Linked DNA regions of Homo sapiens. The protein of the gene in region 1 purifies or fractionates together with the protein of each later gene. This does not show direct contact. Each region holds a gene or a part of one and is shown on either strand. Other genes may lie near its edges. The genes, in order: SLC15A2, NAALAD2, SCFD1, EPHX1, DHCR7, ALG1 and ATL3.

Region 1 (3,500 bases):
GGTGACCTCATCAGACACTTTCAACCTAGTAATTCCTTTCTTTAACCTAGCCATTTTATTTCTTGGAATTTACCCTAAGAAATAATCAGAGCCATGCATAAATATTTATGAATAAGAATGTTCATTGTAGGATTATGTATAATAATAAAAACGGAATACCTATGTGGAAATGTCTAAATAAACTATGGTATATCTATAGAATGGAATATTATATGCCCATTAAAATCATGTGCTCAAAGATTATCTAAAGACATGGGAAGATGCTTATGATACAATTAATGTTAAGGAAAAATCAAGATCAATATAGCATACAGAGTTTCTAATTCATTCAGGTACACACCTCACCTGAAAGGATTTGATGGACTCTATCAACAGAGAATTGTTTTCATTTCCCACCACTGTCACCTTCACCTCATCATCTGCCAGATTCAAGACTTGTAGGAAAACCTCCTGGGGACCTGGCTGGGCTGGGGCCATTTCCTTAGAGCAAAGAACACATGTCAGAATCACCAACAAATAATCCTTCAGATACAATGGCAACACATATCTCAGTTGTTTCTGACAGCCTAGTCCACTAGCCAAGTAGACATAGTTTTCTCCCTCTGAAAAATATTTGGCTTAGAAAACTCTAAAGGCAGCTTGGAGAGGGAAACATCAGCTCATTGTAGCAAGTACCAATGCCAGCTTACAAACTCGATGCTTTTTGACTCAGCTGTGGCCTCATCCGTAATAGTGGCTATTCAATCTGCCAAAAGGTTTTTACTTGAGTATGTAGAAAGGCATCACATAAGCCTGTGTTCCCTAAGGAGAGGGCTCTCTTGGATATTAGTGTTTGAGAATTCCCTGAAAATACATTCTGAGTCACTCAGGTGGGAGGTGGGCCTCATTTTGCATTGCTGTTTTACCCCTGTATCTACTTATTTATCACAAATACTTATGATGCACCTCTTATAAAACAGGTACTGTGCTAGGTCCCAGGGAATCATGACTGAACAAGTCAAAAGAGCAAATAAGAAAGATATGATCCTGCCCTCATAGAGCTTAAGAATTACTGAACTCACATTTATTTTTATCTCTACAGCTGCCGCAACTGCAAATGCCAGGCATGCTAGGATCATACCAACAGCCATTTTCCTAAGTGATCTGTGGTGGAAAGGAGAAACAATTATATCTAAACTTTAGACTCTAAAGGATGAAATCCAAACTCTGTAGCCTATTATTAAAGACTGCATTAGACTGTTCTTGCATTGCTGTAAAGAAATACCTGAGACTGGGTAATTTATAAAGAAAAGAAGTTTAATTGGCTTATGGTTCTGTAGCTTTACAGGAAGCACAGTGCTGGCATCTTCCAGCTTCTGGTGAAGCATCGAGGAGCTTTCAATCATGGGAGAAGCCAAAGGTGGAATAGGCATGTCACATGGTGAAAGCAGAAGCAAGCGAGGAGATGGGAGGTGCCACACACTTTTAAATGACCAGATCTTGTGAGAACTCATTCACTATCATGAAGATAGCACCACAGAATGGTGCTAAACCCTTCATGAGAATTCACTCCCATGATCCAGTCATGTCCCACCAGGCCCCACCTTTATCACTGGGAATTACATTTCAACATGAGATTTTGGCAGGGACAAATATTCAAACCATATCATTCCATCTCTAGCCCCCCAAAAATCTCATGTCCTTCTCACATTGCAAAATACAATTATATCTTCCCAATAGTTCCCCAAATTTTAACTCATTCCAGCACAAACTCAATCAAAAGTTCCAAGTCCAAAGTCTCATTTGAAATAAGGCAAGTCCCTTCCACCCATGAGCCTATAAAATCAAAACAACTTATTGACTCCCCAAATAAAATGGGGGTATAGATACTGGGTAAACATTCCCATTCCAAAAGGGAGAAACTGGCCAAAACAAATGGGCTACAGGCCCCAGGCAAGTCTGAAACACAGCAGGGCAGTTATTAAATCTTAAAGTTCCAGAATAATCTCCTTTGACTCCATGTCCCACATTCAGGGCACACCAATACAAGGGGTGGGCTCCCAAGGACTTGGATAGCTCCACCCTTGTGGCTTTGCAGAGTTCAGCCCCTGTGGCTGCTCTCACAGGTTGTTGAGTGCCCGTGGTTTTCCAGGCCCAGGGTGCAAGCTGCCAGTGGGTCTATCATTCTGGGGTCTGGAGGATGGTGGCCCCCTTCTCACAGCTGCACTAGGCAGTGTCCTTGTGGGGACTCTGTGTGGGAGCTCCAACCCCACATTTTACCTCCACACTGCCCTAGTAGAGGTACTCTCTGGGGGCTCCACCCCTGCAGCCGGTTTCTGCATGAACACCCACACTTTCTCATACAGCCTCTGAAATCTAGGTGAAGGGTGCCAAGCATTCTTCATTCTTGCACTCTGTATGCCTGCAGGCTTAACACCATGTAGAAGCCACCAAGGTTTATGGCTTGTACCCTCTGGAGAAACAGACATGTCACATGGTGAAAGCAGGAGCAAGTGAAGGGTAGGGAGATACTACATGCTTTTAAATGGTCAGATCCCACTAGAACTCACTATCATAAGGACAGCACCAACGGGATAGCACTAAACCATTTATGAGGAATTCATCCCCATGATCCGACTACCTCCCACCAGACCCCACCTCCAACATCCAACATTGGGGATTACATTTCAACATGAGATTTGAGTGGGTACAAATATTCAAACTGCATCAAAGACTTTTCCTGATTTGATCCCAATTACTTTCCTTTTTTAAATCCATGTTTCCATGACCAATTACTTTTCAAGGGATTTCCTAGAACTCCCCTTCATACATTCTTCTTTCTTCTTGTTCTTGAGTCACATTGAACTGCTCTTCTCTGTGATACACCACATTTACCCACCTCCATCTTTGCTTATGATGGTTTTTCTATTCGCTATGTCATAACACCAAAAATAATGGCAATACAATCAGGTTTATTGAACAAATGCCATATGCCAAGTGCTGTACATGCTTTACCTCACATTCCTCTGCAGAAATCTGTTGGCTTTGGCAGGGGAGGGACTTTTTCTTTTCTACCTCTCCTTGGCACTTGATCTTCCCTTCTTAGGACACTTATTTTACCTGTGTAGTAGTTGTATTTTATATATATATATATATATATATATATATATATATATATATATATATATATATATAGTCTAGCCCCTTTACTAAGTAATAAACTGTTTGAGGGAAATGTTGTTTTTTTTTTTGCTTGATTTATATTTTCATGACACTTGGTCCTAAACTTCCCAACATTTGCTCAATGAACAAATGACAAAGGGCCATTTTCATCTGGTAAAGTGGTCATCACAATGAAATTGCTATTAAATCAAGAATGAAAGAAGGCTTGAAACTTTCTTTTGCCAAACTCTAAAAAAGACTAGTCCTTCTATTTAGAAAAAATTTCAGGCAGTAATTGGGAATAATTCAGTCCCCAGTCCTACTAGGTTCCCCATTTGTTTTGTAGGGACAACAGGAGA
Region 2 (3,500 bases), on another chromosome or scaffold:
CCTGGGAAGAGTTCCCAGGGATAGAGATAGACTGCATGTCCCTTTCCAGATGGACAAGGAAGCAATTTGAGTAATTTTGTGAAAATTTCATTGTTAGGGTTAATCAAATAAATGGTGATTCACAGAGTAATGCCAGACACTTATCTGGTTAATCAGTACTAAGTAGTTCACATCCTTTTCCTGATTTGTCAGAAAACTCTCATTCTCTAGACTAGTCTTGCAGGCTCTGATGTACTTTTCATGAGGATAAATGCAGTTGGAGAACATATTTTGGTCAAGAGGAGCATTAGGGTAAGATTCATTATTGTCGGTAGCTCCTCTTCATATTGCCACTTCTGCCTGTCACCTGAGTCAAGGGTTCTTGGTTGGGAAATAAAGCAAGTTTCTCTTTTAACTTGATCCCCTTTTCTGTTCTGCACTGACTGGTTTGCACTACTGTCACACAGACATCCTGATGATATGCAGGTACTTGGATATAACCAATATATACCATGTTTGCTCATCAATGTTATAAATTATTTCATAAACCAAATTGAAGATTACAGTAGCAGACACAGATTTGTCATAGATTTTAATCAATCTTCAAATCATAATTACAGTACATCTAAATCTTGCTTGCCCATTATATGTATATCACTTGCAAATTTGACTGTTCAGAATACAACAAAGAACAAAGAAATAAAAGCAACCCCAGAGTAACCCAAAATAGATAAACTCAGAATGCTTACATTCATTACAATTAATACATAAATGATGTGTTTTAACTCTTTGTCAAGGCCTGTTCACTTTTATACTCTGTCTTCTGTAATTTGCTCAAAGTTATCTAGTTTCTAAGACCACTTTAGATTAGAAGCAGATAATTAGATAGAAGGAGAAGGACTGATAAGGAGATTGCTTTTTAGTGATACTAACAGCAGTAAGAACGATAGCCATACAAGGTGGCAAATAATAAAAACTAAAATTAGAAAAGGCAGACCGAAGAACTAAAAAGAATATTTATACGGGATACTACTATGTAATAATTCATATTCATAATGGTACCTTAATTATGTAATAAAGCTTAAATGACATTTAGATATACACTGTTTGAGAAGGAAGGGAAGTTACTTAAATAAATCATCCTTAAGCTGTGTACTTAGCTGCCCAGAACCTTTTTTTTTTTTTTACCAATCAATTGATAGATAACTTTGAACTATGCTGAGGTGCAATTTGAATATGTATTCCCTAATTTTAGTTATCGAAGATACAAGGAGAAAATGTTCAAGGTGTAGCATCTTGAATGAAGGTTACATAAATTATAAAACAAATAATGAGAAAATTTTTAAAACCAGTGAATATTTGGCTATAGTGTTTTCGTTATTAGCGTTTTGCCTCCTTGTGGTAAAACTCAGGGTGTTATATGGTTGTATTTTTTCTTTTTCTTGTTTTTTTTTTTTTTTTTTTTTTTTTTTTTTTTTTTTTTGTATTTTTAGTAGAGACAGGGTTTCTCCATGTTGCCCAGGCTGGTCTTGAACTCCTGAGCTCAGGCAATCCACCTGCCTTGGCTTCCCAAAGTGCTAGGATTACAGATGTGAGCCACCATGACTGGCTGGTTGTTATTTTTTCTATAGTTATTTTTATGCTTACATAAAAATATTATAACTTGAATATTTAATGTTTATTTATACTTGCCTCTCCATTTTTTTTTCAGAAAACAGATAAGTACAGCAGCTACCCAGTGTACCACACAATTTATGAGACATTTGAATTGGTAGAGAAATTTTATGACCCCACATTTAAAAAACAACTTTCTGTGGCTCAATTACGAGGAGCACTGGTATATGAGCTTGTGGATTCTAAAATCATTCCTTTTAATATTCAAGACTATGCAGAAGCTTTGAAAAACTATGCAGCAAGTATCTATAATCTATCTAAGAAACATGATCAACAATTGACAGACCATGGAGTATCATTTGGTAAGAAATAGTTGGGCAGATATTTTACAGTCTTTAAGTTAGAGCTTTAAGATATTATCTCCTATGATGATCAATGCATATTGTTTCATCCTAGAATACATATTTGCCTTACTTATTTTGACTTCTACACAAAAACTTAAAACAAACACCTATTAAAGAATCTGATTTAATCTGGCATGTATAGAATGAATCCATTATGGCTGAGTTATTACCACAAACATTGGGATGGTAAACATTTTTCTTGTATTATGGCCTTTAAAAACATTTTTACTGGCTGGGTGCGGTGGCTCACGCCTGTAATCCCAGCACTTTGGGAGGCTGAGGCGGGCAGATGATGAGGTCAGGAGATCGAGACCATTCTGGCTATTATGGTGAAACCGCGTCTCTACTGAAAATACAAAAAACTAGCTGGGCATGGTGGTGGGCGCCTGTAGTCTCAGCTACTCGGGAGGCTGAGGCAGGAGAATGGCGTGAACCTGGGAGGCAGAGCTTGCAGTGAGCTGAGATCGCGCCACTGCACTCCAGCCTGGGCGACAGAGCAAGGCTCCTTCTCAAAAAAAAAAAAAAATTTACTGTTATAGAAACAATATTAGAAAAATGTAACATTATTTGCAAAAGATTGAGAAAGCCACAAATACTATTACATACGTATTTTTAATTATTGTCAACAAAATGATTATTACTGCATATATCTTTTAGTGTTTGTCTATATGAAACATTTTTTCCATGGTTATAAGTATACTTTCCTTTTATTAATGACTGTTTAGTGGTTGCTCTTCTGCATTGTGCATCTCCTATACAGCAAGGATGACTCATAATGCAGTGTATGTAGTAGCATTGAGGATTGAGTTTGGAAGTGGTTTGCCTGGTTCAGATACTAGCTTTACCAGTTCTTCGTTATGTGACCTTGGGAAAGTTACTTAACTTCTCTATGTGTTAGCTTTCATACAATTAAAAGATAAAAAAGAACATATCATGTTTCAAAGATCATTGTGGAGATTCAGTTTGGTAATATATAGAAGCTGTGGTGGGTAGCACTTAGTGCTCATTAAATATTACCTATTACTGTTTTATTACAAACATTGTCTTTTATTATTCTGGGGGCACCTATTTTTAGTATATACCCAAATTATCAAATATGCCCTGAGTTTCTACTGTGTACCAAGTACTATGTTATTACCTGGGAGATATAAATGTGTACAAGGCATGGTCATAGTCCTAAGAAAGCTTAAAGTCTCATGTGGGGAATAAAGCAATATACAGATAATAGGTTACTATGGGGCTATGTAGAGAGTACTATAAAAACACAGAAAATGGGTATGGAATAGTAATGACTTCTGAATATTATTATATAAAGGATTAGTAATCTTTATATAATATTATATACAGGATTAGTAATAATAGCAAATACTATGGTCTAGAAAAAAAATGAAGCAAATAAAATGTGTTTATATCAATACAATTGGAGTATCTCTGCAGTGATGGGGGAAATAAGGAGAGATAAAACCAGAGAAATAAGCAGAGCCTACAGCAAAATGGACATTG
Region 3 (3,500 bases), on another chromosome or scaffold:
TGTTTTTGATTTTGGAATATTTGCATTATTACTGGTTGAGCATCCCAAATTTCAAAATCCGAGCACCAGCTTAAAAAATTTTGATTTTGGAGCATTTCAGGTTTCAGATATTAAGACTTGGGATGCTCAACCTGTAGTATATTTAGAGCCAATAAGAAAAATGGTTTGTCATTTCAGATAAAGTCATGGTTTAAGCCTTGGGTAAACTCTGATAAAAGTAAAATTACGTTCTTGTAAACTCTGAACACAGGCCGTGTACTCCATTAACAAATCCTTTTTGTTATAGGTATAGGTATACCTATATAGGTATAGGTATATAGGCATATAGGTATACCTATATAGGTATAGGTATATAGGCATATAGGTATACCTATATAGGTATAGGTATATAGGTATATAGGTATATAGGTATATCAATAGGTATATTGATATAGGTAAAAGGTATATCAAAATACCTTTTAATAAGTTAGCCAAGGCTCAAAGTTGGAGAAAATCTCAGACTGGGCTGAGAAGGCGAATGTAGGATTATCTTATTTGCTGCTGCTGGCCTCTTTCAGTTAGCTAAGGCCTAACTGTGCAGCATACTAAACACCTGAGGCTCACATGGCAGCTCAGGCTTTCGTTCTTCCAAGTTGTCAGGCTTCAAGAGTGTGAACAGCTGTTCCCAGAAACAGGGTTTCCTCCCTCTTGGGCGTGAGTGCCAGGGTGGTGGTGTCTTTATTGCCTGGAGGTGGAGGAAGAGCTCTGCAAATGCACAGTGGGAGAGTTAATCCTGAAACCCCCTCCGTGCTTCCTGTGTTATTTCAGTTTTAAGTGTTAAACTGTTTTTTTGTTTATATTAAATATATTTAATATTATAAATACATTAAATAAAATACATTTTTATTTAATGTAAAACCTGTGGGCCTCTGAAGTAGGTAATATTGGTAATGTGTATTTTTGGCTGGACATTAGGTAATAACATTTTACCAAAAATTATGTCTGTAGGTGTATGGTAAATACACCTGATAGCAATAACTTAAGCGTGCCCTGAGAATGACCCTGTATTGCAGACACACCTGGATATGTGTTTCAAGCTAGGGAATCAAAATGGCCCACCTGGAGATTCATTCCTTGTCTGTGAGGAACATCTGAGCCCCCAGCCCATCCAGTGAAACATAGGCCATGCAGTGGATCAAGGCCCCGAGTTTTGGGTTGAATGAAGGTTGCCAGGTGGAGGTTGTTAGGGAAATGTTAAGTGAAAATGCTGTATAAACCACATTTTTGCTATATAAACCACTTTTTGCATGCAGTTATGGTTCTCCTGCCCAGCGCATTGCCACTGAGTATACAGTTCTCCTGTCCAGCCCACTGTCACTGGACTCTCCTATGTGTGTTGCCCCCATTAAAACCCTGTGTCTCATTTCCTGGCTCCGGGTCTCTTCTTAGGCCTCTCAAACATGGGTATCTTCCCCACTGGAGGCAATAAGGGTTCGGCACAACAGTATGTACACACACATAAGTATGCAAATGTATCACTGAAGTACAATCTGTTCAGTAATAGCAGTTTTAACAGCATTATACCTACCTCAGCAAGCAAGCATTTAATAGAAGTTTTTCTTGTGAGTGAATGAATATGCTGTAAGTTGATATTCAGGTGATTTTAGTATTACATAGTTCTCTCGTAGGACTTTGGAGTATAGGTTATTCTGTATTACTTAAAGCCTGATGCAAATGTTTTTAACAATCAACCAAGTGGATTTTAAGGCTGTCAATTTTATAAAAATTAAATCAAGAAATTACAACTAGTATACTCTCTTGAATATTTGGCCATCTCAGTTTCACGAAGAAGTATATTAAGGGATTTTCATTTTCTGTAACACTGTTACAGATGAGTGATAAATAACACAAAATACTGTAACAGACCCGTAACTGTGATTTTTGATGTTGTATATTTGCTTAGCTGGAATTATCAGTTATCTACTATATGGGAAAGTCTGTTTTCCCAAGGGACATAGAATTTTAAGCAACTTTTCGGTGAATCTGACAGGATAAATTGTTTGTAAAATATACTCTTACATAACTATAGACAGATCTGTATGAAGGTTTTGTATATGAACCAATTGAATATGCCATGGATAATTTTGTTTTTAGAAAGACTGATCCAGGCCGGGCGTGGTGGCTCACGCCTGTAATCCCAGCACTTTGGGAGGCCAAGGCGGGTGGATCACCTGAGGTCGGGAGTTCTAGACCAGCCTGACCAACACGGAGAAACCTCATCTCTACTAGAAATACAAAATTAGCCGGGCATGGCAGCGCATGCCTGTAATCCCAGCTACTCGGGAGGCTGAAGCAGAACTGCTTGAACCTGGGAGGCAGAGGTTGTGGTGAGCCGAGATCACGCCATTGCACTCCAGCCTGGGCAACAAGAGCGAAACTCTGTCTCAGAAAAAAAAAAAAAAAAAAAAAAGAAAGACTGATCTTTCTCACTAGGCCACTCACACTTAAAAAAAAAAACAGACAGACAGACTGATCCTTCTCACTAGACCACTCAGACTTAAAAAAAAAAAAAAAAAAGACTTACCTTAATCTATGCTTTCAGCCAGACAGTACACAGGCAACAGCATCAGTATATTGAGGCCATTGCAAGTTCTTCCTGAACATTTCCCGCGATTTCATCTGTGGACAGATGCTTATTGTGTTTTGGGAAATCTCCCAAATACATGTCAATTAGCTGTCGATGGAATAGTCTTACAAGATCTGACCCCTAGTTCTACACATATAGTCATTTGGTTAATCAGTTTTACTAGAGTTGATTAGTTTATTTTGCTTTGGGGTAGTGAATGATGATGGAGGAAAAATAAAATCCTAAAAAACAATGACAATATTTGATAAAACTTTTTATTTTCAGTGGCTTTGAAGCGTATGTTGAATTTCAATGTGCCTCATATTAAAAACAGCACAGGAGAACCAGTATGGAAGGTAAGAGTTTATCTTAATGGGAACTGATTTCTGTTTTTCTCAGCCCTTATTGGTGGTAATTGGAGGGAATTTATTGTAATATGGAAGAAGTAACACATATTAGTTATCATGAATGTTTTATCCTTATTTAACATGATCTCTTAATATGAATTGTTTTGACAGACATTCTATGGAGTGAGACAAGTGATAAAATAGTAATTTTCATCTAGGGAGTCCAGTTGATCTCTTTGGTAGGATGTCACTGATAGGTCTTTTTCCTGGTTGATATTTTGTTCCTTAGCTTTTCAAGTCCAGACTTTGGATTTTATAAGCTTGCTCGGAGTTAGTCACATTCAGAGGGCCTGGATTATTTTAACAAACTCATGAGAAAATGATCTGTAAACTGTAATACCACTTTAATAATTTATGAGATATAAAACTTAATTGAACCAGAAAGCAATCTACAATCTTTTCCTTTGAGAAATACTGGAGAGCCTTTAAAAATTCCAATTCTTTAGGCTTCTTCATTTTAAACTTCATGCAGACTCTCTTTCTTCAGA
Region 4 (3,500 bases), on another chromosome or scaffold:
TTTTTTTTTTTCTTTTTTTTTTTTTTGAGACAGAGTCTTGCCCTGTCACCCAGGCTGGAGTGCAGTGGCGCAATCTGGGCTCACTGCAAGCTCCGCCTTCCGGGTTCACGCTATTCTTCTGCCTCAGCCTCCCAAGTAGCTGGGACCACAGGCGCCTGCCACCACGCCCGGCTAATTTTTTGTATTTTTAGTAGAGACGGGGTTTCACCAAGTTAGACCAGGATGGTCTCGATCTCCTGACCTTGTGATCTGCCCGCCTTGACCTCCCAAAGTGCTGGGATTACAGGCGTGAGCCACGGCGCCCAGCCTGTTTTTTTTTTTTTTTTTTAAAGACAGAGTCTCATTCTGTCGCCCAGGCTGGAGTGCAGTGGTGTGATCTCAGCTCACCACAAGCTCCATCTCCTGGGTTCACGCCATTCTCCTGCCTCATCCTCCCGAGTAGCTGGGACTACAGGCACCCGCCACCACACCTGGCTAATTTTTTGTATTTTTATTAGAGACAGGATTTCACCGTGTTAGCTACGATGGTCTCAACCTCCTGACCTCGTGATCCACCTGCCTCAGCCTCCCAAAGTGCTGGGATTACAGGCGTGCGCCACCGTGCCCAGCCTCTCTCTCTTTTTTTAAGAGATGGGGTCTTGATCTGTCACCCAGTGCAGTGGTGTCCTTGTAGCTCACTGCAGCCTTGAATTCCTGGGCTCAAGCAATCCTCCTGCCTCAGCCTCCTGAGTAGCTGGGACTACAGGTGCATGCCACCACACCCAGTTAACACTATAATTTCAATTTCCTTTTTTTAGGAACTTTAGTTTATCTGACTGACCAACATGTCTTTCATACACTTTAAGTAATTCCTAGAATTTTAACAAATTAAAATCTTCACTGTTCCTTGAAAAGGCCAAATTATCTTAAAACATTAAAAATAAGATTCCTAACATGTACAATTTCTTCAATATAAAAAATTAACAAGCTGGGCACAGTGGTGCTCGCCTATAGTACCAGCTATTCAGGAGGTCTGAGGCGAGAGGATTGCTTGAGCCCAGGAGTTCGAGGCTGTGGTGAGCCATGATCACGCCTGTGAATAGCCGCTGCACTCCAGCCTGAGCAACACAGCAAGACCTTGTCTCTGAAAAAGATTAATTGTATGGCAACCCACAGAGTGGGAGAAAACATTTGCAAATATAAGAGATTTTATTCAGAATATATAGAGAACTCCTAAACCCTAATAAAACACCCAAAAAATGGACAAAAGACATGAACAGACATTTCTTCGGAGAAATTACAAAGAATCCAATAAGTACCGCATAAAAAATGCTCAACATCAGTAATCATTAGGAAAATGCAACTCAAAACCACAATGTGATACCATTTCATACCCATTAGGATGACCATTACCGAAAAAAAGAAAGGAAAAAAATATTGGCAAGGATTTGGAGAATCGGGATTCTGAGGCATTGTTGGGTGGGAAAGTAAAATGGTGCAGCTGCTGCGGAACGCAGTATGGCGGTTCCTCAGAAAATTAAACGCAGAATTACCGTATGATCCAACAAGTCCACTTCTGAGTATAGATCCAAAAGAACTGAGAGCAGAGTCTTTTCTTTCTTTGAGATGGAGCCCAGGCTGGAGTGCAGTGGCGCGATCTTGGCTCACTGCAACCTCCGCCTCCTGGCTTCAAGCAATTCTCTGCTTCAGCCTCCAGAGTAGCTGGGATTACAGCTGCCTGCCAACACACCTGGCTATTTTTTGTATTTCTAGTAGAGATGGGATTTCACCATCTTGGCCAGGCTGCTTGAACTCTTGACCTCGTGATCTACCCACCTCAGCCTCCCAAAGTGCTGGGATTACAGTTCTGAGCCACCCCACTTGGCCTGGGTCTAAATCTCATCTCCATCCTTCCTCTCAAAGATTGCCACATCATTGGACTGGATGGTGCATTTCTTTGGTTTTTAAATTGCATGTATGTGTTCCTGCCTAGCTCTAAAGATGGACAGATTTGTTGTGACTGCAATATTTTTGCATTTAGTAAGGTTACAACGTATAAGTACATCTCAGTCACCTATAATTGGGTTCTGAATCTCTCCAACTTTATCTGACTGTAAGTCACATTGTGGAAGAAGGCTGTTCTCATGACATACATCCCTCTCTGGCTGGCGTTTTGCAAACATACCTTCAATCTTAGTCTTGAAGTGAGGGTATCTGTTGAGAATCTCCACCTGCTTCTTCCAGTCAAATTCATTCCGCCAGTAGGAGATGACTTTCTTCAGGTAGTTGGAGTTGAAGCCATAGTGGAAGCAGCTGTCCTCCAAAGGTGGGGTGAAACGGAACTTATCGATCCTCTGGTGTAAGTCCTGGAGCAAAATTCAGGACCCCAAGTTGAGAGGGATGGGAAGGACAGAGCACAAGAGCAAAGTCTGTTTCCAGAAAACACAGCAAACCCTGCAGCCACAAGATACTGCCCTCTGGGAGTGGCAAGGCAGTTTCCCACATCACTGGCTACTCCCAAAGCGGATGTGTTCTTCACTTCTTCCTTCTTCACTGTAGACTTCGCATTTCTTTTTTCTTTTTTCTTTTTTTTTTTTTGAGATAGGGTCTCACTCTGTTGCCCAGGCTGGAGGGCAGTGGCGTGATCTCGGCCCACTGCAACCCCCACCTCCCAGGTTCAAGCCAGTCATGCCTCAGCTCCCAGAGTAGCTGGGATTACAGGTGTGAGCCACCATGTCCGGCTAATTTTTGCATTTTTAGTAGAGACGGGGTTTTGCCATGTTGGCCAGGCTGGTCTTGAACTCCTGGCTTCAAGTGATCTGTCTGCCTTGGCCTCCCAAAGTGGTGGGATTACAGGTGTAAGCCACTGCGCCCAGCTCATCTTTTACTCTTTAAGTGTATACACGATACTCATCTTTAATTTACCCAGGCGTCTCTACAGCGGGAGTCGGCAAACTTTTTCTGTAAAGGGCCAGATAGTAAATATTCTAGGCTTTGCAGGCTGCAGTGACTCCACTGTCTTCATAGTGTGAAAGCAGCCACAGCCAATGCACAGATGAATGGGGGTGGCTGTGTTCCAATAAAACTTTATTTATGGACAGCCATAGCCAATGCACAGATGAATGGGGGTGGCTGTGTTCCAATAAAAATTTATGGACACTGAAATCTGACTGCTATATAATTTTCACGTCACAAACTATTATTCTTCTTTTGATTTTTTTCCCCCTAACTATTTAAAGAGGTAAACACTATTCTTGGCATGGGCGCTGTGCTAAAACAGGTAGCAGGCTACATTTGGTCTATGGGCCTGGTTTCCTGACCCCTGATATACAACATTGAATGATACATTATAACTGAGTTGGGATAAAAATTACAGGCCAGGCCCAGCACGGTGGTTCACGCCTGTAATCCCAGTGCTTTGGGAGGCCAAGGCAGGTGGATCACTTGAAGTCAGGAGTTCGAGACCAGCCTGGCCAACATGGCGAAACCCCATCTCTACTAAAAATACAAAAATTAGCCAG
Region 5 (3,500 bases), on another chromosome or scaffold:
ACTTTCTGGGTCTTGCTGCTTTTAAGATAAAGAGGAAGACTTCCATGAGGCCTCCAGCCTCACCTGGCTCTGAGCTCCTGAACGCTCTCTGGTCAGGATGCGGGATGTTTCTGAGTGTCCCAGACTTGCCACCCTCTCTCCCTACAGGGGGTTCCTGGAGCATGCACTCTTGCCTCCACTCTACCAGGTTAACTCCCACACACCCCCAGATTCTACCCAGGTGTAATCCCCAAGGGAGACCTTCCTGGACCACGCCTGGCTGCGTAGAACCTGCCTCCTCCCCTCCCAGGGCTGGCAGAGACAGGCACCCAAGGATGGCTTCCTTCACCAAGTGCTCGCCGGCTGCTTCCTGGTGACACCTGGGGAGGGCAGCTGACTCTCTTTTACAAGCAGTAGATTAAGGTCATGGGAATACGCTCTGGCTTGCGGGTTCCCCCAGAGCCTGCCGGCATCGGCGTTTCACCCTCTCCAGCCATGACAGGCACCTGCAGGACGTTGACCAGGACCATGGCATTGGTCACATGGCTGTGGAGCTCCCGCTGCTTCGCTGCGAAGGACAGGTTGATGAGGGTCCAGGCGACGATCCCGGGGCGCCCATTGAAGAACAGCTTGAAGTCAAACCACTTCCCGATCCGAGGGTTAAACTCGATGCCCATCATGTAGTTGTAAAAGAAATTGCCTGTGAATTTGCTTAAAAATATAAATAAAAGATACATTTAGTGGATGAGCATATCTCACAAGATGAAGCCACCTTACTTAGCGAGAGCCCAGCACTGGCCCAGGGTCCTAAAGGGTAACGTGAGACGGCGCAGGCAGAAGCTGGCCATGAGCCGCTGGGACCCCCACGGCTGGAATGCTTGTCGGCTGGTTCCTGGCGCCCTCATTCACTTTGCTTTGCATTCAGCTGCTGCTCAGCAGAGACTTCCTTAGGCAGAAGCCCAGGGGCACCTGCTCTGCACCCGGGAAGGGTGGGAGACCGGCCCTGGGCTGGTACCTGGGTTTCTCTCTACCCTTCTCCAGATGCCCTTGACGCATGGCACAGGTGAGCTGAAGAACTGGCTTGATTGCACTGAGATTACGTTCTGGGGCCCAAGCACACGGTTTGAAGCCGACGCAGGGCACGTGGGCCCTCATGGGTGAGTGACATTATAAATCACGCCAACGTAGAGAATGACAAACGCACCCTGGGCCCGGCTTCCAGCATGTGCAGGACAAGTTCTTTGACCAGTTACCTGAATCCCCCAATCCCCGGAGGGCCAGAGCATCAGCCGAGATAACCCCTGTGGAGACCCTGACTAGGTCTAGCTGGCTGAGGACACACAACAATTTCTGTGTTAACTAGAAAATCCTATTTTCATGTCCAGTTCCCTCAGGTAGGGTAAGTAGAAAGAAGCAAAACACACAAAGTCTACATGATTATAAGGTAGCGAGGATGATTTCCAGGAGCCATTGAAGGCCAGCCTCGTTATCTGATAACACACAAGCTACAAAGTGTCATCCTCCAGAAACATTTCCCAAGAGCCTAGGTGTAAACCACACTGGGGTTTTTTGGATCCCCCAAACTGAACTGTAAGTCCCACTGCCTACAACTGTCCACAAGAGAACCCCCCAAACATTGGTTTATGATGGATGGATGGATAGATAACAGGGTGAGTGGGTGGAAGGATGGATGAATGGGATGGGGAGAGGAGCAGGTGGATGGATATATGATAGGCAGGGTTGAGCTGGGGTGCAGGGTGGCAGGGATCAGGTGTGTTCAGAAGTGTCACCCAGGAAGCCAGAGGGAGCAGGCTAGGAGGGCCTGAGAGGGTAAGGGAGGCCGGTCAGGAGCTGCGGACATTGCTCAGGCAGGAGGTTGACCTGGATGAGATGATGCATTCCTTCCCCTCGGCACATGCCATTACAGGCCCTGATAGAGTGGATGGATGGGTAAATGGATGGATGACGGGCAGGTGGATGGGTGGGTGGCTAGATGTGTAGGTGGGTGGGTAGGTGGATAGGTGGATGGACAAATAGATGACGGGTGGGTAGACAGACGGGGTGGAGGGTGGATGGGCAGGTGGATGAGATGGATGATGGATGGGTGGGTGGGTAGGTGGAAGGATGGGGAGATGGGCAGGTGGATGGGTGTGTGGCTAGATGTGTAGGTGGGTGGGTAGGTGGATGGGCAGATGGATGAATGGGTGATGGGAGGGTAGATGGATGGATGATGGGTGGGTGGATGTGGGTGATGGATAGGTGGATGGATGATGCATTGGTGGGTGGGTGAATGGGATGGGGCAATGGGTAGGTGGATGATGGGTGAGTAGGTAGATGAATGGGTAGGGGGGTGGATGGGTGGGTGGGGAGATGGGCAGGTGAATGGATGAGTGGACAGAGATGAGTGGCTCACCACTGTCCAGCCATGGGAATGGGTACAAGCCAGCAGGGCTCTCCTGGGAAGCTGTTAATTAAAGCCACAGGGACAATAAGACTCTTCACTAAGGTTGTTTTGGGCCTCACCAGCTTATCCAAAGAAAGAGGCAATGGGCTGCCTGTGCCCCAAGCCAGAAGTTTTTCCTGGCTTCCTTACCCCCACGCCAGCCCTAAAGGCAATGACTTGGCCACCACAGCTGACCTGGCCATCTTCAGCTGCATTCTTGCCAAGGCTGGAGAAGCCACCAAACATTCAGAAAGGATGTTCCCCAGGGTGAAGCAAGTTCCATCCCCCTCCTCCTCTTCCACGGATTCTCAGTGCTCAGGGCTTTACAACCACCTGCCCCAGGCAGCAAGAAAGGCCAGGGGTGAAGTTTGCACTTTCTACATCAGGCTGGACCCGCTGCTAAGAACATACCAGTCTCTGGCGCTGGTGGGGAAGAAGTAGCCCTTGACCATGGCGAAGGTGGAGACGGCATAGCCAAGGATGTTGGCGCACCACAGCAGTGGGATCCAGTTGTCGAAGATGATGGTGGGCGAGAACCAGGACAGGAGATGAGCGTTTGCAAACCAGAGCAGGTGCGTGAGGAGCCAGGCTTGCAGGCCATTGATCTGATACTTGTTCACAACCCCTGCAGATGAAGGATTCAGAAATGAAGGCGCTTTCCCAACCCGCAGTGAGGAGCTTGGCTGGGCTGAAGCATGCCTGGCGGGGGCCCTGGTCACTTTCTGGGCCTCTGCTGCTGCGGACCCTCATCTGGGGCCCCAGGAACCATCTCTGAGGCCCCTATACCCTTGGCCAAGGAACTACCTGCTCCTAGGAAGAGGGAGGGGAGGCTGAGTCCATCCTTTGGTTCTGCATCTCGTTAACTGGCCATAGGCTGAGTGACAGGTGTGCAGTCTGATAGGGAGGTCAGGGCTGAGGGGCAGAAGCAAGTGAGGATGCCCCTGTGGTATGCCTGGCCCCCTCTGTAATTGTTGGGGAGCACCTCAGCCCATCCACCCCTCAAAACAGGGAGCTTCTGGGGGCAGAGTTGGGATGCGGTTCCAGTCTGCACCCACGTGAGAGGCACAAAGCCAGGCTC
Region 6 (4,155 bases), on another chromosome or scaffold:
TGGCTTAAGGCGTGAGCTGTCCCTTCTGAATCCATAGAAAGGGAGTGATGGGGCAATTGTGAAAAGCAGATGCAAAGTGTGCCAAGCCCTGAGCTGAGCCCAGGGACACTGGGGAGCCACATCCATGTGGGCTACCCTGTCCCGTGGGTGCTGCCTGTGGTCCTCATCAGGGGAGGAGTCTTGTTTGTTTGTTGAATACGGTCTGGGTGGTGGCTCTCCAGGTTCTGCGGCAGCTCCCAAGTGGAGGCAATGGGGTAGCATCACCAGTGAGCTCTTGGTGTTTCTCTGCAAGGGACCGCTTTCAAAGAAAAAAGGTCATGATACGGTTTGGCTGTGTCCCCACCCAAATCTCATCTTGAATTCCCATGTGTTGTGTGGAAGGGACCCAGTGGGAGGTAACTGAATCATGGGGTCAGGTGTTTCCCGTGCCGTTCTCGTGATAGTGAATAAGCCTCACGAGACCTGATTGTTTTATAAAAAGGAGTTTTCCTGCAGAAGCTCTCTTTTTGCCTGCTGCCATCTATGTAAGAGGTGACTTGCTCCTCCTTGCCTTCTGCCATGATGGTGAGGCCTTCCCAGCCATGTGGACCTGTAAGTCCATGAAACCTCTTTCTTATGTAAAGTGCTCAGTCTCGGGTATGTCTTTATCAGCAGCATGAAAACGGACTAATACAGGCCATCGCAGAGACACACATTAAACTCTCACTATGGCTACTTTGGGAGGTGAAATTGGAGGGTCACTGTGGAAATTTCCTTTCTAGCCATTGATACTTAAGCAAAATCATGATGGTGTTTACTTCCTTGTTTGTCCTTCCCCCTCTCTACCTTTTAAATGTTTTATTAAGTGTGATGTACACCCTGGAAAATGGGCAGGTAATCTGCTGCTTGAGGTACCGCCCCAAATGCAGCACACCCACATTACCAGCACCAGATCCAGAAGCAGAACCCACCAGCCCCTAACTTCTAACAGCGAGGACTGGTTTTTATTTACATAGACGGAACTCTACAATTCGTACTCGTCAGCATCTGGCTCCTTTATCAATGTTAGGATGAAATTTATCCAAATTCTTGTGTCACTATATTTTGAAATTATCTTTGAATCCTGAAGAGAGTTCTTAGATCCCAATACAGTAACAGCTTTACTTTAGTCGGGGAAATACACTGGTGTGTAGGGAATCTGGTGTATGTGCGTGTGTCCTACTACTACTAATTCTTGGCCCCGAGGGGCTCCTGGGGGTTCCCCGGGCCCCTGTTAGGGAACCGCGTCCACTTCTCGCCCTCTCGGCCCACTTCGGAGGCTCGGTCTGCGGCTGCGCACAGCGCGAGGAAGCGCGGTCACGTGACTGCTGCGGGCCAGCCAAGATGGCGGCCTCATGCTTGGTCCTGCTGGCGCTGTGTCTGCTGCTGCCGCTGCTGCTGCTGGGAGGATGGAAGCGCTGGCGCCGGGGGCGGGCGGCCCGGCATGTAGTAGCGGTGGTGCTGGGCGACGTGGGCCGCAGCCCCCGTATGCAGTACCACGCGCTGTCGTTGGCCATGCACGGCTTCTCGGTGACCCTCCTGGGGTTCTGCAGTGAGTGGCCAAGGGTCTGGGAGGGACGATGCTCTCTCAGCCGTTGATCCTCGGTTCTAACCGCCCCGGGGAGTCGAGGCGGAAGTGCTCCTTTAGTCGCCGCCTTTGGGCAGCTCTCCGAGATTAGACGAGCGGTTCTGCCCCAGCCTTTCCTGGGTGGGTCTCTAGGTATAGCCGGCGTTAATCTTGCCACGTGTCAGAAGTGTGTTAAGTGAATCCATTGCGTGGTCTCACGTAATTCTCCTAGTAAGTGGAACCCAGGTGCGTGGAACTCCAGGGCTAGTGCTGGTAGCTACGTCCCTGTGCAGCTACCCTTGTCAGGCTATGTCTGAGCTGACAGGATATTTCATTCCTCATCCCTCAACGCAGAGCTCTGCAGACAGATGTTTTCATTTGTTCTTCATGTCCAGCTTTTCCCCACAGTGTGCAGGGCAGCGGTGTCTGCTCCCTCATTATTCTCCACGTTGGTATCTTGAGAGGGTAGCTCAACCCCATCTCAGGAAGAAGTGGGAACAGCACTAGTTGCCTTTAATCCCTGTTTAGAATCTGCTATCCTAGGGTGATGGGGTAGAGTGGGACTTCCTAGGGATGGCTCTGTGGTGGGAAAATTCCACTATCCAGACAATCTAGATTAGTTTAATTGAGCACCTACTGTTTGCCAGGCATCATGTTAAGTGAAGGTAGGTAAGATTCAGGCCCTATCTCTGTGTGCCTCCTAGAGCAATCTGAACAAGAATTGGCCGCATTCTCTGTTCTGGCTAGTGAGGAGCAGAGAGAGGTTTTGAAATATCTTACTTTCCAAAACACTGTCCGTGATTCAGCCTGAGTTGGGAGATTATCTGACTTTAGATTGCTGCTTCTGGTACATTAAAGGGATCATTCTCATTTTTCAGACTCCAAACCCCATGATGAGCTCTTGCAGAACAACAGAATTCAGATTGTGGGGTTGACAGAACTTCAGAGTCTTGCAGGTAGGATGCCGTCAACTCCAGAATCCTCTGAATCCATGGGCTGGGGGCAGGGGGTGTTCGTTTGAAAAGCCGTGCAGATTGCCAGACGCTCCTTTGGTAGTCACAGGTGTTTTCTGACTTGCAGTTGGGCCCCGAGTTTTCCAGTACGGAGTCAAAGTTGTACTTCAGGCTATGTACTTGCTGTGGAAGTTGATGTGGAGGGAGCCAGGTGCCTATATCTTTCTCCAGGTGTGTATCAGCCTCTGCCTCCCTCTGTGAGAGCCATGTTAGCAGTTTACTTTCCAGCACAAATTGGTACTATATTGCATATTCATATGTGTGTGTGTTGTGTGTATGGGCGTTTAAAGACATGAGTAGGAGCCTATGGTATGTGTCTATTTATGGCACCTATCCATGCTCTCTGTGTCATTACAGATAGTCTTACATTGTACTGACTGTGTATCAAGTGTTTTCCATGTATTAACTCATTTAGTCCTCACAGTTACCCTAAGAAATATTGCATGTAGGTAATACAAGAACCTGTTTCTTAAGGTTGTTCTCATTTAGATGAGAAAACCTAGACTGAGAAAGGCTCTGTAAGTAGCCCATCGCCATACAGCTAGGAAGTGGTGGAATCAGGATTTGAACGTAGGTCGTCAGTGTGGTTCTATAGTATACACACGCACGCATACGCGCGCACACACAAACACACATATATTTTTTTGAGACAGAGTTTCGCTCTTGCCGCCCAGGCTGGAGTGCAGTGGCGTGATCTCGGCTCACTGCAACCTCTGCCTGCCGGGTTCAAGTGATTCTCCTGCCTCAGCCTCCTGAGTAGCTGGGATTACAGGTGCCCGCCACCACGCCCAGCTAATTTTTGTATTTTTAGTAGAAATGGGGTTACGCCATGTTGGCCAGGCTGTTCTCGAACTCCTGACCTCAGGTAATCCGCCCCCCTCGGCGTCCCAAAGTGCTGGGATTACAGGCGTGCGCCACCGCGCCTGGCCTATCGTTATACTTTTAATCCCTTCCCTTGATCACTTTTTCTTTAAAAAATTTTTCTTTCTTTTCTAGCTGAAGGAAGAATACTTTTTTTTTTAAATCAATTTTTAATATATAGAAGCACCTTCCTCTTTTATTTATTTATTTTTATTTTTCCTGAGATGGAGTCTCTGTTGCTCAGGCTGGAGTGCAGTGGTGCGATCTTGGCTCACTGCACCTTCTACCTCCCGTGTTCAAGTGATTTTCCTGCCTCAGCCTCCTGAGTAGCTGGGATTACAGGCATGTGCCACCATGCCTGGCTAATTTTTGTAATTTTTTTTAGTAGAGATGGGGTTTCGCTATGCTGGCCAGGATGGTCTTGAACTCCTGACCTCAGGTGATCCACCTGCCTCGGCCTCCCAGATTGCTGGGATTACAGGCATGAACCATCGTGACCCACACCTTCCTCTTTTAATAGGCAGCCTTGAATTCCAATATGTGATGTACTATACTGCATGTATTTAGTCTCATGTTAATGGATACTCAGATTCTTCCTGATTTTGTTTTTACTTTTACAAATAGTGTGGCTCCAAGCACAGCGAGCATATGCCTTTTGTATAAGTCCAGTTTCTTTCTTAGGGTAACTTCCCAGCA
Region 7 (3,500 bases), on another chromosome or scaffold:
TCAAAAAAAAAAAAAAAAAGCCAATGGCATTTTTAGTTTCATATTGTGTTTTCCACTGGTATATACCTGTTGATTTGTTTGTGTCTTTTATGAACTGTTATTTTCTGAAATTTTTTTTCAATAAAAGGAAGGAAGATGTGAAAACAACTTTTTATCAAAGTGAATGATTTAAAATTAATACATATTGATTGTTTTTAAGATTCTTAAATAAAATGCATGAATATAGTTTAAAAGGTCAGGTACTACTGTAAGGCTTCTAACAGAAAGCAGCTGTCATGTGTGTTATTCTCCTCTCTACCCAGTTTTCACTTCCCAGAGGCTGATGCTCTTATGTGTTACCACTTCTGTTCTTTACTTCCTTACTCCTGTATGGGTGGCACAGACCTGGCTGTTGTTCTGGGAGTTGAGCAGGGAAATGGCATTGGGGATCTCACTGTTCAGAAGGTGGGCATTCACTATCCCCTAGCTATCAGTAGGGCTTCTTAGCCCCAGTCTCATCTATGCCTTGTAAGCTATGGGCATAGAGCCTCTCCACAGATTTCTTTGTAAGGATCGGGAGGGGTAAGTCATGTGTTTCTTATACAGACTTTCATCCATTACTTCTGTTTTTAGCCCAATCCTATAAGCATGCCTTCACACCTGTTTGTCCTTTTTTTTTTTTTTTTTTTGAGATGTAGTCTCACTCTGTTGCCCAGGCTGGAGTGCAGTGGCACCATCTTGGTCACTACAGTCTCCGCCTCCCAGGTTCAAGCAATTCTCCTGCCTCAGCCTCCTCATTAGCTGGGAGTACAGGTGCACACCACCATGCCTGGATAATTTTTGTATTTTTAGTAGAGACAGGGTTTCACAATGTTGGCCAGGCTGGTCTGGAACTCCTGACCTCGTGATCCGCCTGTCTCAGCCTCCCAAAGTGCTGGGATTACAGGGGTGAGCCACCACACCTGGCCACCTTTGATATTTTGAAGTGCTGGAGTGTTGGTACTGAATTCTTTTAGCTTTCATACATCTGAAAAATCTTTATTTTGCCTTTGTTTTGGAAAATATTTACTCTTAGTGTAGAGTTCTAGGCCAACGTATTTTTCTCAGTACTTCAAAGGTGTTGCCCCTTTGCCTTTTTGCTGACATTGTTTCTTTTTTTTTTTTTTGAGAGGGAGTCTCTCTGTTGCTCAGGCTGGAGTGCAGTGGTGCGATCTCGGCTCACTTCAACCTCTGCCTCCCGGGTTCAAGCAATTCTCCTGTCTCAGCCTTCTGAGTAGCTGGGACTACAGGCGCGCACCACCACGCCTGGCTAATTTTTGTATTTTTAGTAGAGACGGGGTTTCGCCATATTGGTCAGGCTGGTCTTGCACTCCTGACCTCAGGTTATTCACCTGCCTCTGTTTCCCAAAGTGCTGGGATTACAAGCATGAGCCACTGTGCCCAGTCTGCTGACATTGTTTCTGACAAGAAATACACTGTTATTCTTATTTTTGTTCTTTTGTACCTAATCTGTCTTTTTTGTCTGGTTGCTTTTTTCTTTAAATTAAAAAAAATTTTATTTTCGTGGGTACATAGGTATATATATTTATAGGGTATGTCTGGTTGCTTTTAAGATTTTATCACTGTTTTTGAGCAAATTATTATGTGTTTTGATGTAGTTCTTTTTTTTTTTTTGAGACGGAGTCTCACTGTGTCGCCCAGGCTGGAGTGCAGTGGCGTGATCTCGGCTCACTGCAAGCTCCGCCTCCCGGGTTCACGCCATTCTCCTGCCTCAGCCTCCCAAGGAGCTGGGACTACAGGCGCCTACCACCACGCCCGGCTAAGTTTTTGTATTTTTAGTAGAGACGGGGTTTCACTGTGTTAGCCAGGATGGTCTCGATCTCCTGACCTCGTGATCTGCCCGCCTTGGCCTCCCAAAGTGCTGGGATTATAGGCGTGAGCCACTGCGCCAGGCTGATGTAGTTCATGTTATTTGTATGTGGGTTTTGTTGAGCTTCTTGAATCTGCAGATTTATAATGTTTATCAAATTTGGACATTTTAAGGTTATTATTTCTTCAAGTTTTTTTGGTCTGTTACTCCCTTTGGAGACTCCTATTACATGTGCCTCTTGCTGCTTGAAGTTGTTCCACAAGATGTTCATTTAAAATTCTTTGGCCGGCGCGGTGGCGCACGTCTGTAATCTCACACTTTGGGAGGCCGAGGTGGGTGGATCACCTGAAGTCAGGAGTTTGAGACTAGCCTGACCAACATGGTGAAAACCCATCTCTACTAAATACAAAAAATTAGCTGGGTGTGATGGGTCATGCCTGTAATCCCAGCTACTTGGGAGGCTGAGGTGGGAGAATCGCTGGAACCCGGGAGGTGGAGGTTGCAGTGAGCCGAGATCGCACCATTGCACTTCCGCCTGGGCAACAAGAGCTAAACTCCATCTAAAAAAAAAAAAAAAGGCCAGATGCGGTGGCTCACGCCTGTATTCCCAGCACTTTGGGAGGCTGGGGTGGGCGGATCACCTGAGGTCAGGAGTTCGAGACCAGCCTGGCCAACATGGTGATGCCCTGTTGCTACTAAAAATACAAACATTAGCTGGGCGTGGTGGCGCCCACCTGTAATCTCAGCTACTTGGGAGGCAGAGGCAGGAGAATTGCTGGAACCTGGGCGGCGGAGATTGCAGTGGGATTAGGAAGAGTACTCAGTCTTGCCTCAGTAATGAGGAATAACAACACTCTGGTTCCATTTAACAAATCTAAACAGCAAGAACAGAAAAAACCAGAGTTTCCAAATTACTTAACTACATCTCAGAATAAAGCTAGATATTTTATAGGAATGCAAAAATAACCAGCACCCAACAAGGGAAAATCCACAAGTCTACATCCTATCAAAAATTTGCAGACATAAAAGAAGCAGAAAAATATAACCCAAATGAGGAGAAAAATCAATCAAAACTGTCTCAGAACTAACACAGATATTAAAATTAACAGAAAACAACTTTTTTTTTTTTTTTTAGACAGTCTTGCTCAACTAAAAATACAAAAATTAGCCGGGTATGGTGGTGTGCACCTGTAATCCCAGCTACTCAGGAGGCTGAGGCAGGAGAATCGCTTGAACCTGGGAGGTGGAGGTTGTGGTGAGCCGAGGTTGCGCCATTGCACTCCAGCCTGGGTGACGAGCAAAACTCTGTCTCAAAAAAAAAAAAAAAATAGGCCAGACATGGTGGCTTAGGCCTGTAATCCCAGCACTTTGGGAGGCCGAGGTGGGTGGATCATCTGAGGTCAGGAGTTCAAGACGAGTCTGACCAACGTGGTGAAACCCTGTCTCTACTAAAAATACAAAAATTAGCCGGGCATGGTGGCTCATGCCTGTAATCCCAGCTACTCGGGAGGCTGAGGCAGGAGAATCGCTTGGACCTGGGAGGTGGAGGTTGCAGTGAGCCAAGATCGTGCCATTGTACTCCAACCTGGGCAACAGAGTGAAACTCCGTAATCCCAGCACTGTGGGAGGCTGAGGCGGGCGGATCATGAGG

The links.
Region 2: the proteins of SLC15A2 (region 1) and NAALAD2 purify together in Homo sapiens (affinity purification with mass spectrometry; one large-scale study listed by BioGRID and IntAct). This does not show direct contact.
Region 3: the proteins of SLC15A2 (region 1) and SCFD1 purify together in Homo sapiens (affinity purification with mass spectrometry; one large-scale study listed by BioGRID and IntAct). This does not show direct contact.
Region 4: the proteins of SLC15A2 (region 1) and EPHX1 purify together in Homo sapiens (affinity purification with mass spectrometry; one large-scale study listed by BioGRID and IntAct). This does not show direct contact.
Region 5: the proteins of SLC15A2 (region 1) and DHCR7 purify together in Homo sapiens (affinity purification with mass spectrometry; one large-scale study listed by BioGRID and IntAct). This does not show direct contact.
Region 6: the proteins of SLC15A2 (region 1) and ALG1 purify together in Homo sapiens (affinity purification with mass spectrometry; one large-scale study listed by BioGRID and IntAct). This does not show direct contact.
Region 7: the proteins of SLC15A2 (region 1) and ATL3 purify together in Homo sapiens (affinity purification with mass spectrometry; one large-scale study listed by BioGRID and IntAct). This does not show direct contact.

What each region holds. Positions count from the first base shown.
Region 1 is NC_000003.12:121,925,401-121,928,900, reverse strand, and holds part of SLC15A2 (solute carrier family 15 member 2), read right to left. Parts: intron 1,144-3,500; coding exon 1,062-1,143; intron 481-1,061; coding exon 346-480; intron 1-345. UniProt on the Homo sapiens protein: Proton-coupled amino-acid transporter that transports oligopeptides of 2 to 4 amino acids with a preference for dipeptides. Transports neutral and anionic dipeptides with a proton to peptide stoichiometry of 2:1 or 3:1.
Region 2 is NC_000011.10:90,176,163-90,179,662, forward strand, and holds part of NAALAD2 (N-acetylated-alpha-linked acidic dipeptidase 2), read left to right. Parts: intron 1-1,690; coding exon 1,691-1,955; intron 1,956-3,500.
Region 3 is NC_000014.9:30,625,319-30,628,818, forward strand, and holds part of SCFD1 (sec1 family domain-containing protein 1), read left to right. Parts: intron 1-2,890; coding exon 2,891-2,961; intron 2,962-3,500. UniProt on the Homo sapiens protein: Plays a role in SNARE-pin assembly and Golgi-to-ER retrograde transport via its interaction with COG4. Involved in vesicular transport between the endoplasmic reticulum and the Golgi.
Region 4 is NC_000001.11:225,830,624-225,834,123, reverse strand, and holds part of EPHX1 (epoxide hydrolase 1), read right to left. Parts: intron 2,346-3,500; coding exon 2,165-2,345; intron 1-2,164. UniProt on the Homo sapiens protein: Biotransformation enzyme that catalyzes the hydrolysis of arene and aliphatic epoxides to less reactive and more water soluble dihydrodiols by the trans addition of water.
Region 5 is NC_000011.10:71,438,394-71,441,893, forward strand, and holds part of DHCR7 (7-dehydrocholesterol reductase), read right to left. Parts: intron 3,048-3,500; coding exon 2,834-3,047; intron 2,444-2,833; coding exon of another isoform or gene 2,393-2,443; intron 691-2,392; coding exon 486-690; intron 1-485. UniProt on the Homo sapiens protein: Oxidoreductase that catalyzes the last step of the cholesterol synthesis pathway, which transforms cholesta-5,7-dien-3beta-ol (7-dehydrocholesterol,7-DHC) into cholesterol by reducing the C7-C8 double bond of its sterol core.
Region 6 is NC_000016.10:5,070,488-5,074,642, forward strand, and holds the start of ALG1 (chitobiosyldiphosphodolichol beta-mannosyltransferase), read left to right. Parts: upstream 1-1,355; 5' UTR 1,356-1,362; coding exon 1,363-1,570; intron 1,571-1,760; exon of another isoform or gene 1,761-1,816; intron 1,817-2,463; coding exon 2,464-2,541; intron 2,542-2,665; coding exon 2,666-2,769; intron 2,770-4,155. UniProt on the Homo sapiens protein: Mannosyltransferase that operates in the biosynthetic pathway of dolichol-linked oligosaccharides, the glycan precursors employed in protein asparagine (N)-glycosylation.
Region 7 is NC_000011.10:63,654,377-63,657,876, reverse strand, and holds part of ATL3 (atlastin-3), read left to right. Parts: intron 1-3,500. UniProt on the Homo sapiens protein: Atlastin-3 (ATL3) is a membrane-anchored GTPase that mediates the GTP-dependent fusion of endoplasmic reticulum (ER) membranes, maintaining the continuous ER network. It facilitates the formation of three-way junctions where ER tubules intersect.